2 separate regions of the Homo sapiens genome follow, and region 1 is linked to region 2. A link means that fine-mapping ties the variant in region 2 to the expression of a gene that starts in the linked region. Tissue or cell type: whole blood. Region 2 holds a variant in brackets; the other region holds the start of a gene. All regions are shown on one strand. Distances are from middle to middle.

The links. PIP is the estimated chance that this variant, and not a neighbour inherited with it, causes the effect.
Region 1: TRIM38 starts here. The variant in region 2 is fine-mapped to the expression of TRIM38 in whole blood (INTERVAL, PIP above 0.99).

The regions. Positions count from the first base shown.
Region 1 is chr6:25,958,554-25,966,660 of GRCh38, reverse strand. TRIM38 (tripartite motif containing 38) reads right to left here and starts at 3,859. Exons shown (of 8, transcript NM_006355.5): 1 at 3,806-3,859; 2 at 3,379-3,612; 3 at 1-326. The coding sequence starts at 138. RefSeq lists a cis regulatory region at 7,687-7,991.
Region 2 is chr6:25,894,268-25,902,374 of GRCh38, reverse strand. No RefSeq gene overlaps it. Among named protein-coding and RNA genes, the nearest start is that of SLC17A3, 24 kb to the right of the region's middle. RefSeq lists an enhancer at 3,670-4,259. The variant TGA/A (reference allele first, on the strand shown) is at 3,172.

The DNA of each region.
Region 1 (8,107 bases), 64 kb before region 2:
GTTTTTAAAGAAGTCTGTTATACACAAGTGGCAGTAGCTGTGTCCACAGTTGATGCTTACTGGGTTCGTCATCAGGCTCAGGCAGATGGAGCAGGTGGCTTCCTCCATCATCTTCTTGGTGCTGGTGGTTGAGGCCATAGCTTTTATTGAAAAGCTCCAATATTGGCTCTAGAGATGGAGATGAAGCAGCCAGAATTTTCCACCGTGATGAAAATACACCTCACCTGCACCTCTATGTGATGAGCTGGCTGCAACTGACTTCCATAGGTCTTGAAGGTTTTCCTTCCAACCCCTATTATCTCATTTTGTATTGAAGAAAAGAGGACCTAAAAGGAAGAAGTTGAGGCTGAGGTTGTTTGGGCCACGTTTGAGAACTGCAACCCAAGTGCAGAGTTTCAAGTTGCCCTCATTAGCAAGCAGTTACAAGTGGTTGTTTAGAGGAAAAAAAGCAGTTTTAAAGCAGTTTTAAAGTTGTTTGCCAAGAATTTACATTAAAATAGCATAAGCTTTTGACTGGCTATACATTGTTCTTTGTATTACAAATCTCGGGAATATGTAGGTAATAGATGAGGCAGCCAGTCAGGAACAAAATGCTTTTAAACATGGGGTCTTAACTGAAGACCTATACTCCTGCCTCACTTGTCCTGATAAATTTTGCATACCTCACATAGCTCAGACTGCTCTAAATTATTTCATTATTTTTCTTTTCTCAGTCTTCTAACTTTTTTTTTTTTTTTTAATGAGACGGAGTCTCACTCTGTCACCCAGGCTGGAGTGCAGTGACGCTATCTCGGCTCACTGCACCTCCGCCTCCCGGGTTCAAGCGATTCTCCTGCCTCAGCCTCCCGAGTAGTAGCTGGGTCTACAGGTGTGCACCACTACGCCCAGCTAATTTTTGTATTTTTAGTAGAGATGGGGTTTCACCATGTTGGTTGGCTCGATCTCTTGACCTTGTGATCCACCCGCCTCAGCCTCCCAAAGTGCCAGGATTACAGGCATGAGCCACCGTGCCCAGCCTCTTTTTCTTTTCTTATAAGACAAGTTCTCGCTCTCTTGCCCAGGCTGTAGTGGAGGGCAGTGGCATGACCACAGCTCACTGCAGCCTCGACCTCCTGGGTTTAAGCAATCCTCCTGCCTCACCCTGGCAGAGTGGCTGGGACTACAGGTATGTGCCACCATGTCCAGCTAAAGTCTTCTCTCCAGAAAGAAGAAATGCATTGGAATTTAGAGGATACACAAACATCTAGCTGTATAGCTAATACAGTAGCCACTATCATGAGTAGGAATTTAAATTTAACTTAATAAAAATTAAAATGAAAAAATTCAGTTTTTCTGTTCCAGTTGCCACATTTTGATTGCTTAATAGTTGCATGTGACTAGTGGCTACATAACAGCCTCAATATACAACATTCTGTTATCACAGAAAGTTACCTTGGACCAAGTGCTGGGAGAAGCAATGCAGGCTTCCTCACAAAAGCTGTAAAAGAGAGAACTCAGGGAGTGTGAAACTCTTTCCTATTCTAGTTAACTTCAAGAATAATTGTTACCAGGCCAGCACGGTGGCTCACGCCTGTAATCCTAGCACTTTGGGAAGCCGAGGCGGGCAGATCACCTGAGGTCAGGAGTTTGAGACCAGCCTGACCAACATGGCAAAACCTCATCTCTACTAAAAATACAAAAAGTTAGCTAGATGTGGTGGTGCACACCTGTAATCCCAGCTGCTCAGGAGGCTGAGGAAGGAGAATGACTTGAGCTCCGGAGGGGGAGGTTGCAGTGAGCCCAGATTACACCACTGCACTCCAGCCTGGGTGAAAGAGCGAGAATCTGTCTTAAAAAAAAAAAAAAGAATAATTGGTACCAGAATTACTCTTTGTAATTAGTAGTAACACTTATGCAATTGGGTGATCTGTGACAGATTCCATTGAAGGAGTATGGGGAGCTTCACCCCAATATATGACTCCCTGGTATAATGAGTATTTTGAATTAAAGGCCCTTAGAGATCAGCAGATGCTGGAAGAGACTTTTCCCCTATCTACATAAAGACCAGTCACACTAGACAAGAAGAACAATTGTTTTTCCTTCCAACCCCTATTATCTCATTTTGTACTGAAGAAAAGAGGACTAAGAATGTAACCAGACCTAATCAGACACTTTCACAAAATAATGTCTGTCTCTCAGGCTCATTCATTTTCCAAAGAGAACCATTTACAAGTTAAACTCTGTTCCTCCATTCATTCATCCTCCCAAATATTCATTTATTCTCCCTAGTAATCATTTACTGCCCCTCAAAGAATTACCTATATTCTCCTGATATCACCCTTCCCCTCTGAAATAAATATGTATACATGTATAAACGTTATACATACATATTTATACAGTATACATACATATTTATACATACATACATATGCATACATATTTATATTTATGTATTTATACATAAGTATTTATAAATAAGGCTATATAAGTATCTACCCCCATTGGCAGAGGGGGTAATCACTCTGTGATTCTAGCCCATGTACTTGTTAATAAATTTGTATGCCTTTTCTCCAATTAGCCTGCCTTTTGTGAGTCGATTTTTCAGTGAACTTCAGAAGGCAAAGGGGAAGTGTTCCCTTGGCTCCTACACCATCATGACAATAAAATTTGACTCCACCTCGACCCCCCCCATCCCCCACAAAGAACAACAACCAACACTGGTTAATAAGGTCGGTTGTTTTTTGTTTGTGTTTTTGTTGTTGTTGTTTTTGCTTTCAGGAGCAGAGGTATAATAGGCAAAAGAAAGAGAAAGGAGAATAGTGAATACCTCTTCTGCAGAGAGGGGTGCCTAAGTGGGACTTCCCTGGCTAATAACGTCTTGCTAGAGACCCAACCAGGAGGATAATGGAAGCAATCAAGGCAACCAGAACAACCAGAAGAACCGGTTTATCCTTTTTGTGCCCTCTCCCTAAACTGAGGGAATAAGAATTGGAAAGAAGGCTGCAGAGCAGAGGGTTTGCTCCTGAGGAGCAGTTATTTCTATGGGATCAGAGCTCCTGCAGAACTGGGGAGTTTACTTTTACTATCTCTTCTCCAGGACAGGACCTATCTCAAGAGACATGTTCAGAGTGATTGCAACATAAAGAGTTTGCAGACCCAAGGAGGTAGGGAAGGCAGAAAGAAGATGGGGGAGGCCAGGGATAGGCAACAGAGGAGTGACCAGGAGCGAAAAAGCCTGCCTCTTCTGAGAACCTAGCTGGGCTCTCCCTGTACCCCCGATCCCTCCCCCCCGCCCGCCCCCACACCCCTACTCCTGGGAGCTCCTCTAGGACAGGGGCAGAGTCAGGAGGAAGTTTGAAGAGTGCCTAGAATAAAAAACAGTAATTTAACTACAATTACCGGGTAGGCTGTTTTCCTCTCACAATTTGATCAGTCTCTTGAAGCCACACAGAATTTCTTCTGAAGACGTGTATTCCTTGGCAGGCTATTTCCTCCAGTGATACACCAGGCCCCTCTCTGCTGGGGTCACTGCTCTTCTGGGGAGATGGGGCTCCCCTCCTTCCAAGGCTCCAGGGTTCCTGTCCTGGGCCCCACTCATCTAAGTTCTGAATCTTCTGAGATTTGGTGTAAAGTCTGGTGAAAGAAAGAGCAGGAAAGAGGTGAGAGCTGTAAAACAAAGAAAGTCCTGACCATTTTCAGAGTTGGAGGGGCCCTGCTGTCACGAAATATATTCCCCACCCCACTTGCCATCAGTACACACTCACATATCCACTGAGAAAACCTTAGCCTGGACCTTTTCCGTAACCTTCACTGCTCAGACACTTACATATTCGCTGCTAGTCCCCTCTGTTGCTGCCACTTCCTGGGTCAGGAAGTTAACTCAGACCGGATTAAACTGAGAAGTGAAACTACTGTGGGAGGCGGGGCTCATAAGATTTAGGAGAAAACTAGTGACGTTGTTCATATCATTTGCACTCCGCCTCTCCGGTAAAGGAGGGGGAAACGTAGGAAGAAAATATCCTTCTTTTACAGCAATAAAAAGAAGGAACCAATTAATAACCCTGTAAACTATCATGTGACCCCAACACAGAGTATCTAAAAACAGGAAGCCTGCAGAGGTTCAGTTCACAGACTCTGATTTGAGATCTTTCTACTTTTGCCACCAACTCCCTTGGGAGTCCTTAAGCCTTCCTAGCTGATGTTACTTCTTTTGCTATTTATGGGTTGCTTGTGGTTCTATAACTGCTCTGAAGGGTGTGGTGGAAAAAGGGGTGGTAACAGCAGTAGGACTCATTGGCATCACAAAATTCATCTGAGTCAGCTTTCTATTCTTCTCTGTCCCGTTCTGTGTCTTGTTTTTCTCCTTGCTGTCCTTCTGCAGGACTCAGATCTTCTTCAATAGCGAGGGTCAGCCAGGATAGAAAATGGGAGTCACTAGTGGCCCAGCAGTGAGTGCCCCCAGCTTAGAGCTGTGTGGGATCCCTGGGACCATCACTCTGCTTTGTGCTTTGTGGAGAAAAGGCTGTGGGGTCCAGGGTCAAGTCCTTAATGACTTAGCTCCAGCTTCTCCACTTCAAAATGAAAGGAAAAGTACTATCACCACCCGTTAGAATTATTATTTCATGGGGAAAAAAGATGGATTACTATCTCACAATAAGAGCTTGTCACATTTATAAGTCTCAGGTGTAAGAGGCATTTATGATAACAACATAATAAATGCTGGCTTAAGTAGATGCAGTGGTCCAAGGGAACCAGTAAGGGGAGCTCAGGACACAGGTGGGAGGAGAAATTAAACTTGAATTCTGGGAGCCACTGGCCTGTCTGGGCCCCTGGCCTGCCTGCTGACCCTGATAGCCAATGGAACATGGAGTTTGGCCCAGCTGCAATCCCTCTGGTCCAACTACTCAAAATAAAGGCAAGATTGGGAAACACGTTCCTTTCTTCCTATACCAAGCAGAAGACTCTTCAGCACTGCACCCTCCTGGGTGCTCACAGAGCCTTCTGTTGTTTTGCCACCTACGATTCATCATGCCCTGGCATGATGGTTGCAGACCCCATGCATAGCATGGGACATTCTACTCCTGAGGCAACCAGCACACAGAGAGAGGAGAAAGAATGAGCCCCTGAATCCTTGGTCCCACGATGAGTCCTTGCAGATATCTACAACTTTCATTGTTGTGGATGTGACTCTGTACCCAGGCATGGCTCATTCCAGATCTGTCCTATTGTCAGAGGTGTTCAAACCAGAATGACTCCATTTTGAATGGGGGCTAGGTAAAATAAGGCTGAGACCTACTGGGCTGCATTCCCAGGAAGTTAGGCATTGTAAGTCACAGGATGAAATAGGCAGTTGGCACAAGACACAGGTCATAAAGATCTTGCTGATAAAACAGGTTGCAGTAAAGAAGCTGACCAAAACCCACCAAAATCAAGATGGCAACAAGAGTGGCCTCTAGTCATTCTCATTGCTCATTATACACGAATTATAATGTGTTAGCAAGTTAGAAGGCATTCCCACCAGCTCCATAGTGGTTTATAAATACCATGGCGATGTCAGGAAGCTACCCTATATAGTCTAAAAAGGGGAGGAACGCTTGGTTCTGGGAATTGCCCACATCTTTCCCAGAAAACATATGAATAATCCACTCCTTGTTTAGTACATAATCAAGAAATAACTGTAAGTATCTGTATTAGTCCATTTTCACACTGCTGATCCAGACATACCTGAGACTGAGTAATTTATACCAGGAAAAAATGTTTCATGCTCTTACAGTCCCACGTGTCTGGGGAGACCTCACAACCACAGCAGAAGGCAAGGAGGAGCAAGTCAGGTCTTACATGGATGGCAGCAGGCAAAGAGCTTGTGCAGGGAAATTCCTTTCTATAAAACCATCAGGTCTCATGAAACTTATTGACTATCATGAGAACAGCAGTATAAATTACTCAGGGAAAGACCTGCCCCCATGATTCAATTACCTCCCACCAGGTCCCTCCCACAATATGTGGGAATTTAAGATGAGAGTTAGGTGGGGACACAGCCAAACCATATCAGTATCCTTAGTCCAGAAGCTGATGCTCTGCCTGTAGAGTAGCCGTTCTTTTATTCCTTTACTTTCTTGCTTTCACTTTACTGTGTAGACTTGCCCCAAATTCTTTCTCACACGAGATCTAAGAACCTTCTCTTAGGGTCTGGGTTGGGACCCCCTTTCTGGTAACACTATCAAAGGATCAGGAAAAGGAAGCTAGTGAATGCTAAAAAGGAAACAAACTACCATTACCAATAATAACAGCAAGACAAAAGCAAAACGGATTGTGACAGCTGTCCCATCTCACACCTGTTTCCCATTGCAGGAAGGAGGGGCTGGTTCATGCACAGAGTGGCCAATATTAGAAGCAGAGATGGGGTGCAGATGAGACTTCAGGAATATGTTGACAAAGGCAGGCCTAGGGAGAAATCAACCTGAACTATCCCCAAGGAGGAATGCATTATCTCTAATATGTAAAGTTAGGCTTGATCCTGTGATTATGGGATATAGGAGTCCAAAGACTCACAATGGGAAGTAGGTCACTAGAGTCTCCTTCAGAAGCTCTGTACTGTGTGTTCCCACTGTGGGCAAGAGTCAGCACTCAGCTATTCCTAGAATGCCTTTCCTCAACTCCTTCAGATTTTGCCTCTCAACTAACCCTATCCTGACCACTTGTTAGCAAGTGTACCCCTCTCTCCCTCCCAAACATTTTCAAATCTATTTTGTTCCCATGGCACTTATCACTGAATATTTTACTAATTTATTTTGTTTAGTGTTTGCTTCCCTCATGAGAATGCAAAGGGATGGATTTTTTTCAATATTGTTCACTGATGAATCCCAGTAACTAGAATATTTCTAAGCATAGTGATGTGCATTAAATCAAAGAGTAACTTTCTGAATTGCACTAAACACACATCACAAGAGGTGTGTGCACATATGTGCATGATGCACGTAGTGTGGTGTGGGTGTTGTGTGGGGTATGTGGTACTGTGTGTGCTGTGTGTGGTATGTGATACATAGTTTGTGTTAGTGTGATGCATGTGATGTGGTATGTGTGTGCGTGTCCATACATATTAGGGGTGGCGGGGATGTTAATATGTCAAATGGTACTAGAAAGTATCAGAACTCATGGTGCTTACTGGTTTCCCAGAGAGCTGCTTCTCTCCCACCTGTAGGATATACTGATGGTTTGGACAGAGAAGAAATAAAAAGAAGGCTGTGACCTACTGGGCTGAGGAAATAAAAACGAAAGTAAAAGAAGAGCTGGGAAAAGAGAGTGGAGGGGCCAAGGGAAATTTCCCCTTTGGCTTCTGGGGAAACTTTGCTGAAAAATCAACTCACAAATTTATTAACATGTACACAGGGAGAACCATAGAATGATTATCCACTTCCCAAGAGGGCTTAAAAGCTTATATATTATCCTGGCAAAACAGATTATGGGAGGGGAAGAAGAGAAACTCTGTTGATGGGATTACTGTTGCGGATTTTTGCTCCTTCGCTCAGCTAGGTCCGGGTTTTTGTCTCACAGCCAGGAAGAATTAGGCATGCAGCCATCAAAGAATGAGTGGAGTAGAATTTATTAAGTGAAAGGAAAGCTCTCAGCAAAGACAAGGGTCCTGAAAGCAGATTTCTGGTTTGCTCTTCACAGTTGAATACTAGGGCTTAAGACTCAAATTCCTGACAACTCCACCCTGTCCTACCAGTGCATGCAGGCCTTTAGACTGAGCTACTCCATATTGATTAATTTCCTGAACTGTGCATGTGTTAAGGAAAGGAATCATCCACTGCAGGCATGTTTAGGCAAGCCCCCTGTGCAAGTTCCCTTATCTGCACAAAACATCCGGTGTAAGCACTTGTGGGGCAGGTCAGAGGTTCTCTGGGTACCATTCCCTTACTGTCTGCCTAAAGCAAGCTGGCCAACTCCTTTCATTACTAGGGAGAGTAAGTAGATCAGGGAACAGAGATTAACTTGAACATTATCTTGTGAAAGTCCGTTCGGGCATGGTTACATTCTTGGTCTTACAGGAAGGGTAAATAAAAATAATTGCTCTTTTTGGTGGGTCTGGATCTTAGGTAGATAAAGAAACTTTAATTCCACGATG
Region 2 (8,107 bases):
TCTACCATCTCTTCTGTTAAAAAGAAAAAAGTATTTTAAAAAATTATCTCTGGAAGGATACACAGGGAACATTGCTCTGGTTTCTTCCAAGAGAGAAATGAGGAACTAGAGAGCATGGCCAAGTGGGGTTTTGCTTTTGTTTTTGTTTGTCTATCTGTTAGCTTTTTATTATTTTCTTTTGTAGGTTTGAATTTCAAACCACATAAATCTGTTACATGCTCATAATAATAAGTTTAAAATAAAACTTTTGGCTGGGTGCAATGACTTACACCTGTAATCCCAGCGCTTTGGGAAGCAGAGGTGGGAGGATACTTGAGGCCAGGAATTTGAGATCAGCCTGGGCAACATAGTGAGACCCTGCCTCTGTAGAAATAAACAAAAATTAGCTGGATATGGTGGTGCATGCTTGTACTCCTAGCTACTTGGGAGGTTGAGGCAGGAGGATCCTTTGAGTCCAGGAGTTTGAGGCTGCAGTGAGCTATAATCACCCACTGCACTATAGCATGGGCAATAAGGTGAGAACTTGTCTCAAAAAAAAAAAAAGGGGGGGGGAAACAAATAAATAAATATAAACAAAACTTTTGTTTCAAAATATGTAATATTTAGCACTAAAGAATTCTGAATTGTAGAGCTAAAAAGTACTTAAAAGTTAATAACTATTGTCTCCTTTAAAAGAATTGTTATCAAAGTATAATTTTTATCCAGAAAATCATCCATATCAGCAAGCTAAACTTTCTCAAAATGACATATCCATGTAATTAGCTCCCAGGTAATTAGCAGGCAGCCTCTACTCAGGTTGAGTATTCCTAATCTAAAAATTGGAAATTCAAAATGCTCCAAAATCGGCAACTTTTTGAATGCTAACATGATTCTCAAAGGAGTGCTCATGGAATATTTCAGATTTTGGATTTTTGGATTTGAGATACTCAGTATAATGCAAACATTCCAAATCTGAAAAAATCTGAAATACTTCTGGTTCTAAGCATAAGGGATACTCAACGTGTGTTAGCTAATTAGACCCTTCATGGTCTCTTCTAGACCTCAGCTTCTTCAAGGTAACCTCTATCCTCACTTCTAATAGCATGAACTTTTCTGTTTTAGAATAATTTGGATTTTCAGGAAAGTTGCAAAGATAGTACAAAGACAGTACAGGAGAGTTCCCATATATCTTTCACCTAGCTTTCCCCCATTGTTAGGATTTTACATTATTATGATACATTTGTCAAATATAAGCAACTCACATTGATACATGAAACTCTATTAACCAAACCCTAGACTTTATGTGGATTTCACCACTGTTTCCACTAATGTTTTCTTTCTGTTCCAAGGTCCAATCTGGAATACCACACTGCATTTTCTTGTCATATCTCCCTAGTCTTTTTTTGTCTGTGACAATGTCTCAGTCTTTTCTTGCTTTTCATGACCTTAACAGTCCTGAAGATCATTTGCTTTTTTTTCATAATTACACCGGAGTTATAGATTTTTTGAAATAATACCACAAGGGCAAAGGGCCCTTCTTGTCACATCATTTTAGGGAGAACATGATATCCACATGACATCACTGATATTAACCTTCATCATGTGGTTTAGGTAATGTTTCAGGTTTCTCTACTGCAAAGTGATTTTTTTCCCTTAATTTAGCCCACCTGAACTTATCAATTTTGTTTTCTTCCATGACTAATACTTTTGTTATTATAGCTAAAACTTCATTGGGGCCAAATCTTAGATCATGTAAATTTTCTTCTATATTTTATTCTAAAAGCTTGTAATGTTTGATACATTCTAAAAGATGTAATGTTTGATACATTACATCTAGTCCTTTGATTTATTTTTAGTTACTTTTGTATAAGGTGTGAGAGATGTCTCCAGTTTCACTTTATTAACACATTGTGGTGTTCCAGTACTATTTGTTGCTAAGACTATCTTTTTTCCATTGATTACCTTTGCCTTAGTTGGCAATATTTTTGTTGGTTTATTTCTAGACTGTTTATCTCATTCCACTGATTTGTGTCTATCTTTTTGACAAAACTGTTGATTACAGTAAGCTTTGAAATAGTTCATTTTTTGTGTCAACTTGACTGAGTCAGGGGATAACCAGCTATCTGGTTAAACATTATTTCTGGCTGTGTTTGTGAGCGTGTTTCTGGATGAGATTAGCCTTTGAATAGGTGATCCTAGTAAAGTAAACTGTCTTTCCCAGTGTGGATGGCATTATGCCACCTGATATTCAGGGTCTGAATAGAAGAAAAGGCAGAGGAAGGGGGAATTTGGGCCTTTTTTTCTGCCTCACTGCTTGAGCTGGGACATCTCATCTGGTCTCCTGCTCTTGAACTGGGATTTACATCATCAGTTCCTCTGGTTCTCAGGCCTTCAGATTCAGACTGAATCATACCACCAGCTTTCCTGGGTCTCCAGCTTGCAGATTACAGATCATGGGACTCCTCATCTTCCATAAATGCATGAGCCAATTCAGTCTATGTCCTTGAAAACTGCCCCACTGCAGATTAAGGCTTTTTTCCACTAGGTGAAATAAAGAAGCTTGTTAGACAGATTTCCCTTCATCCAGTGCCCTCTCCTCTTTAAGTTACAACACATTGGCTACACCTAAGTGCAGGGGTGGGGATGAGGGTATAGTCCTCTTGTTTGCTGAGAAGAGAACTGTATTGGGAAAGCTCTAGAAGTGTTTGATACATACATAAACAAGGCATGGTTTTTGCACTTAATTTCACATTACATTTTTCCCAGAAAAAAAGGAATGTATAGGCATCACGTAACTGTACTAGCTGGAGTCATTCTTCCTGATTATCAAAGGTAAACAGTTATTAATCCTATACCAAGATGTCAAGGAGAAGTACTTTTGGAACACAAGGAATTCTCTGGGAGTCCTTACTACTCTCAAGCCCAGTGAAAAAGTTAATGAAAAACTATAGTACCTTCCTATAAGCTGGATGACTAATTACCAGGCTCATTTAGGAATTTGCCTTACCAAGTAAAACATAAGGGCAGCTGAGGTGCTGACTGAAGACAAATGGAGCATAGAATAAGAGTAGTAAAGAATGCCAAAAATGCTGTCATGTATCCATTGACAAAAGGAGCTATAAAGCCTTTAGGTATTTTCACACTTGCTCTGTTACGTAAATGTATGTGTGTGTGTGTGTGTGTGTGTGTGTG[TGA/A]TCGTTTATTTTTTCCTTCTTTCCCACTAAGATGTATTAATACTGATTAACACTATAAGTTAAGCTTATAGGATAGGCTATCAAAAAATGATTGTGACTGAGCTGAAAAGAACATTACTCAGGATGGATACAGTGAGTTTCAGATGTTTGTATTCTACTTGGGAGCTACAGACAATAAAAAAGTAAAAACATATACAGTTTGTCAGCTACTGATAAGTGCTATGGAAAAAATTAAAGAAGGAAACGGGGATAGGGTGGGATTAGGTGTGGTAGCCATTCTAACCTTGGTGCTGAAATCTATCAGTATTCTGTTCAGCGATCCACTGTCTGCTACCTGGCCATATCCCCCTGGGAAGTGTGAGCCACATTACTAGCTTCATGTGGTGAATTCTGACTGGTCCACACCAGTCATGTGGTCCCTTCTTCTGTAGCTGATTAGCTCAGGCAGCACCTGAGACTAGGCCAAGTTTTGGCAAATGAGACATAAGGGGGAGTTTTCTGGAAAGGCATTCCTTGATCTCCAAGAGAAACGCACTGTTTCTTCCTGCCTTTAACTTGTGTCTGCATGGACACTTGAAACTGTGACCAGCATGGGGGGTAAAGCCTGCTGTGAAGGAGAGCAGAGGCAAGAAGACTGAGGGCAGTGGAGCCAGAGCTCTGATCACCCTGCTCTGGAACCTTTCTGCCTTTGATGTCCTGTTTGGGGAGATAAGAAATTTATATAGTGTTTAAATTTGTTGAGTCAGCGTTTTCTGTACCTGCAGTCAAAAACATGCTGAGTGATTCAAGAAGTTGGTCAGAACTTCAAAAAATTATTATTCTACATTTTCCCCCAAGTTTTTCTGAGGAAAGAGAGTGCTTGGTAGGCAGGATAACCCTGGAAAGTGGCCATGGGGCTGAGGCGGGTTTTGGAGAAATGCAGACACTGTTGTCTGATGTGAGTTTCACCTGATGAGGGATCAGGATCTTCTTTCATATAATTTGGGAAAGCAGATGTTGGTCCCTTTAGATCTGTTAACTGACATTTAGCATTCAAAACTGTCTCGTGATTCACAGAAGTGTTGTAAGATATTATGCAGATTTTAGCACAGCATTCAACCATTCAATCAGATTTTTATAAAGACTTTTTTTTTTTTTTTTTTTTTTTTTTTTTGAGACGGAGTCTTGCTCTGTCGCCCAGGCTGGAGTGCAGTGGCGGGATCTCGGCTCACTGCAGCTCCGCTCCCGGGTCACGCCATTCTCCTGCCTCAGCCTCCCAAGTAGCTGGGACTACAGGCGCCCGCCACCTACGCCCGGCTAATTTTTTGTATTTTTAGTAGAGACGGGGTTTCACCGTTTTAGCCGGGATGGTCTCGATCTCCTGACCTCGTGATCCGCCCGCCTCGGCCTCCCAAAGTGCTGGGATTACAGGCGTGACCCCGCGCCCGGCCTTATAAAGACTTTTTAGATAAAAACAGAATCTATATCTCTAATGTATGTATTAAGGATGAACCCCGGCTGGGCGCAGTGGCTCACACCTGTAATCCCAGCACTTTGGGAGGCCGAGGCGGGTAGATCACTTGAGGTCAGGAGTTCGAGACCAGCCTGGCCAACACGGCGAAACCCTGTCTCTACTAAAAATACAAAAATTAGCTGGGCATGGTGGCAGGCACCTGTAATCCCAGCTGCTTGGGAGACTGAGGCAGGAGAATCGTTTGAACCTGGGACGTGGGGATTGCAGTGAGCCAAGACTGCACCACTGCACTCCAGCCTGGGCGACAGGGTGAGACAACGTCTCAAAAAATAAAAAATAAAATAAAATAAAAAATGAACCCCTCTCTGTCTTACTCTCTGAATGAGTGAGTCTGAAATCCAGTGGGTTTGGCCAAGCAAGGTAGATGTCTGTGTATATATGGGGGAAGGATGTTTAGTGACAGTTGCCTGGAGTGGAGTGAAGAAACCTAAGCAGAGTGAGAGAGAGGCAACAGTGGAGGCCCAGTGAGAGTACTGCAACTTGAATAGGGTGATGAAGCTGTCTTCAAAGGGGGACAAGAGAACAGCCCTGTGTTAATGTTGGAGCCTGACTGGAGTGAAGAGATTATCCATGTGACAGGTAGGCCCATAGCACAGACATTGGCACTTAAGCAGGGTGAGGAGAGCATCCACATAGAGGTGGTAGCTACAAGATGATGGTCATACACAATCAAGATTGGTCCAATGATTAATATAACAAGGATTATTAGAGTTGCCCAGAAATGTGGTCGATCAACTGTGGCCATCAATTACTAAATAGCATAAAAATATCTCAAGGAGAGAAGGCAAAAACTGAGGACTCCACATACAGAAACCTGTCCTTAACATCCTACAGAGAATAATGATAGGCCAAGAAATATTTTTTTGCCCACTGAGTTCACAGTCTCAGATCCCCAAATTGTTCCTGAGTGGAGTTAGATGGATTATAAGAGACCTCCTTATTCATAATAGGCCCAAGTTGGCCTAGAGAGGGAGCAGAATTGGTTTAATGATTCCACTCCAGACTTTCCTGGGATTTTTCACTTCTTCCTGCTCTCCATGCCCTCTTATCACAGTTGCTTGACTGGAAAAATAACAAGTGGCAAGAGAGATGCCTTGCCTTTTTCTTAGAATTCCAGACTCACTTCTCAAGTCACTGAGCTTCTGTTAGTGCAGATATTGCAATGACACTTCCACGTGCATGTGATCGGGACATTTAATGGATCAGCTGCTCAGAGCACTCCTCCAAAGTGGCACTTCCCTTTTTCCAAATTTGGGTCCTGAGGTGAACACCTCCCCAGAGGTATTCATAACAACGTTGAAGTTGTAGAGGTGATGCTCCTTCAGAGGCCAACAAAGAAAAGCTTGGAGGCATATTACATTTTGGATTCCAGTTCCTACATAACTATAAAATAAATTCTGCATCCTTAGACTAAATCAACATAATTGAAGTTAAGCATGGTTCAGATTAAAGAGTAAGCTCATGAGTTTGTTAAACCATTACTTGAGAATGCAGGAAATGAACAAGACATGCAGTCTATGTATTCCAGTTGGTTGTTGGTTTGATAAGCAATTCACAGGCAGTAGATCAACAGGCAGGAAAATATAATAGTTAATATGACTGCAACACTTATTTTGGAAACTTAGATGGCTCTTTGAAAATCTTCTTTTCCAACTAAAATTACTGATATTCATATTATTCAAAAATGACAACCTCTGTGCCATCTGAGATTTGTTGATTCAGCATTTCTAAAAATAGTTCTTAGAATAAAATAGAGTACTTAGCTTGACACTTAGCTATTGACAGTGCCCGGATAGCCTACTTAAATGTATGCTTTCAGAACACTGCTAAACACCTTGCTTTCAACACCCCATTCACTTTCAACACCTCATTCCTCACCCATGACCCCACCTGCTCTCATTTCTGCAAGAAAACAATAGAAATTAGAGCAGTTGGGGTCATGAGTGAGGATATCACTCACTTCTGATGATCATTTAGTTGTTAGGGGTTAAAAATGCCTCTACTATTGCCCTAGAGATGTCCTCCAAATCACTGACACCTACTCTACAAGCTTTGAGCCTGGTGCTTTAGATTTTTTGTCAATAGATAGTGTGAATATATCAAGACTGCCACTAGACAAAGGAAGTTCTAAAATGCTATCAGTTTTGTCCATGGATTTCAACAATCCATGGGCAAAAATGTGATACAATACATGACTTAGAATCAATTAAATATTGGTATTTTAGGACATCCTCTTAAGTGCATGCCAGAATTTCACACAAATTGCACTACAGGGGAGAAACATGCCTGTTCATGGATATTTCAAAGAAACAAATAAAAAAAAAACCTTTGAGACATTTTTATGATTTAGACTGTGTATTATCTTTGCAGTCATATCAAACTAAAGTTCTTGAAGCTGAATTTCTCAGAGAACAGGTGGAAGTCATTGATGAGAAAAACATATTATTAATATTATTTCTCCATTCTTTGACCACAGAATAAGTTGAGGAAGATGATAGAATAAAGGAAGTAGAAGTGGGCCTATAGACAAGTCAGTTTTGTAAGAATAAAAGGAAAATAAGTTTCAAATCTAAAGAATCGATGGAGAAACTAGTATACATATTTATTAAATCAATGCATATAAGAGAAGCAAAGAGATTAAATGATTGAGCAATCATTTGATAATGTGAGCTTTTTAAAAGACTAAATGAAAGAAATACCACCTTTTTCTGTTGAGAATAAATCATAAGTGTGTTAAATGTGAGATTATTAACATAAATAAAATGTATAAAATAAGTGCAGCAGAGAAAGTTTTTAGAAACTTTTCTGACAATGTTACCCAATAAGAAATATAGTATTATCGTGCAACTCAGGACATACTCAGAAACACAAACACATATAAATAAAATAGAATACTTACAAAACAGTTACCTTTATTTCAGAGTGAAATACACTCTGAAATTTTTAATTTTATTGAATAAGGCCTTGATTTATCCTATTATATATCTCATTTAAAAAATATATTGTTCATATCAATTCAAATTGATTTCACTAGTGAGACATAATTAGTGCTTTGGAAAACTCTTGTTTTATGGTCTTAGAGCCCTCCAAGTTACCAAAGGTTCCTACAAGCTTGGCCAATGGGAGAACTCTACCTCCATCAGCTGGGATGATATGTTCAAGAATTAGGGAAGTGACCAGAGTTAAGCCAATAAAAGTCCTTCAGGAGATTCTCTGATCTGGAGGCTGAACCCAAATACCTCTTCTTCTCTTATAGTAAAGATATAAGGATGACACTCCAGACTGCCAGGCAAAGGGCTTTTCTCTCCTAGAAAAGACTAACTGAAGGAACGTGATGGGCAAGAAAACAGCAGAAATTAGAGCCGTTTGGGGTCATGAGTGAGGAAAGAGTAGAGAAAGAAAAAGGAAAGGAGAGAGAATG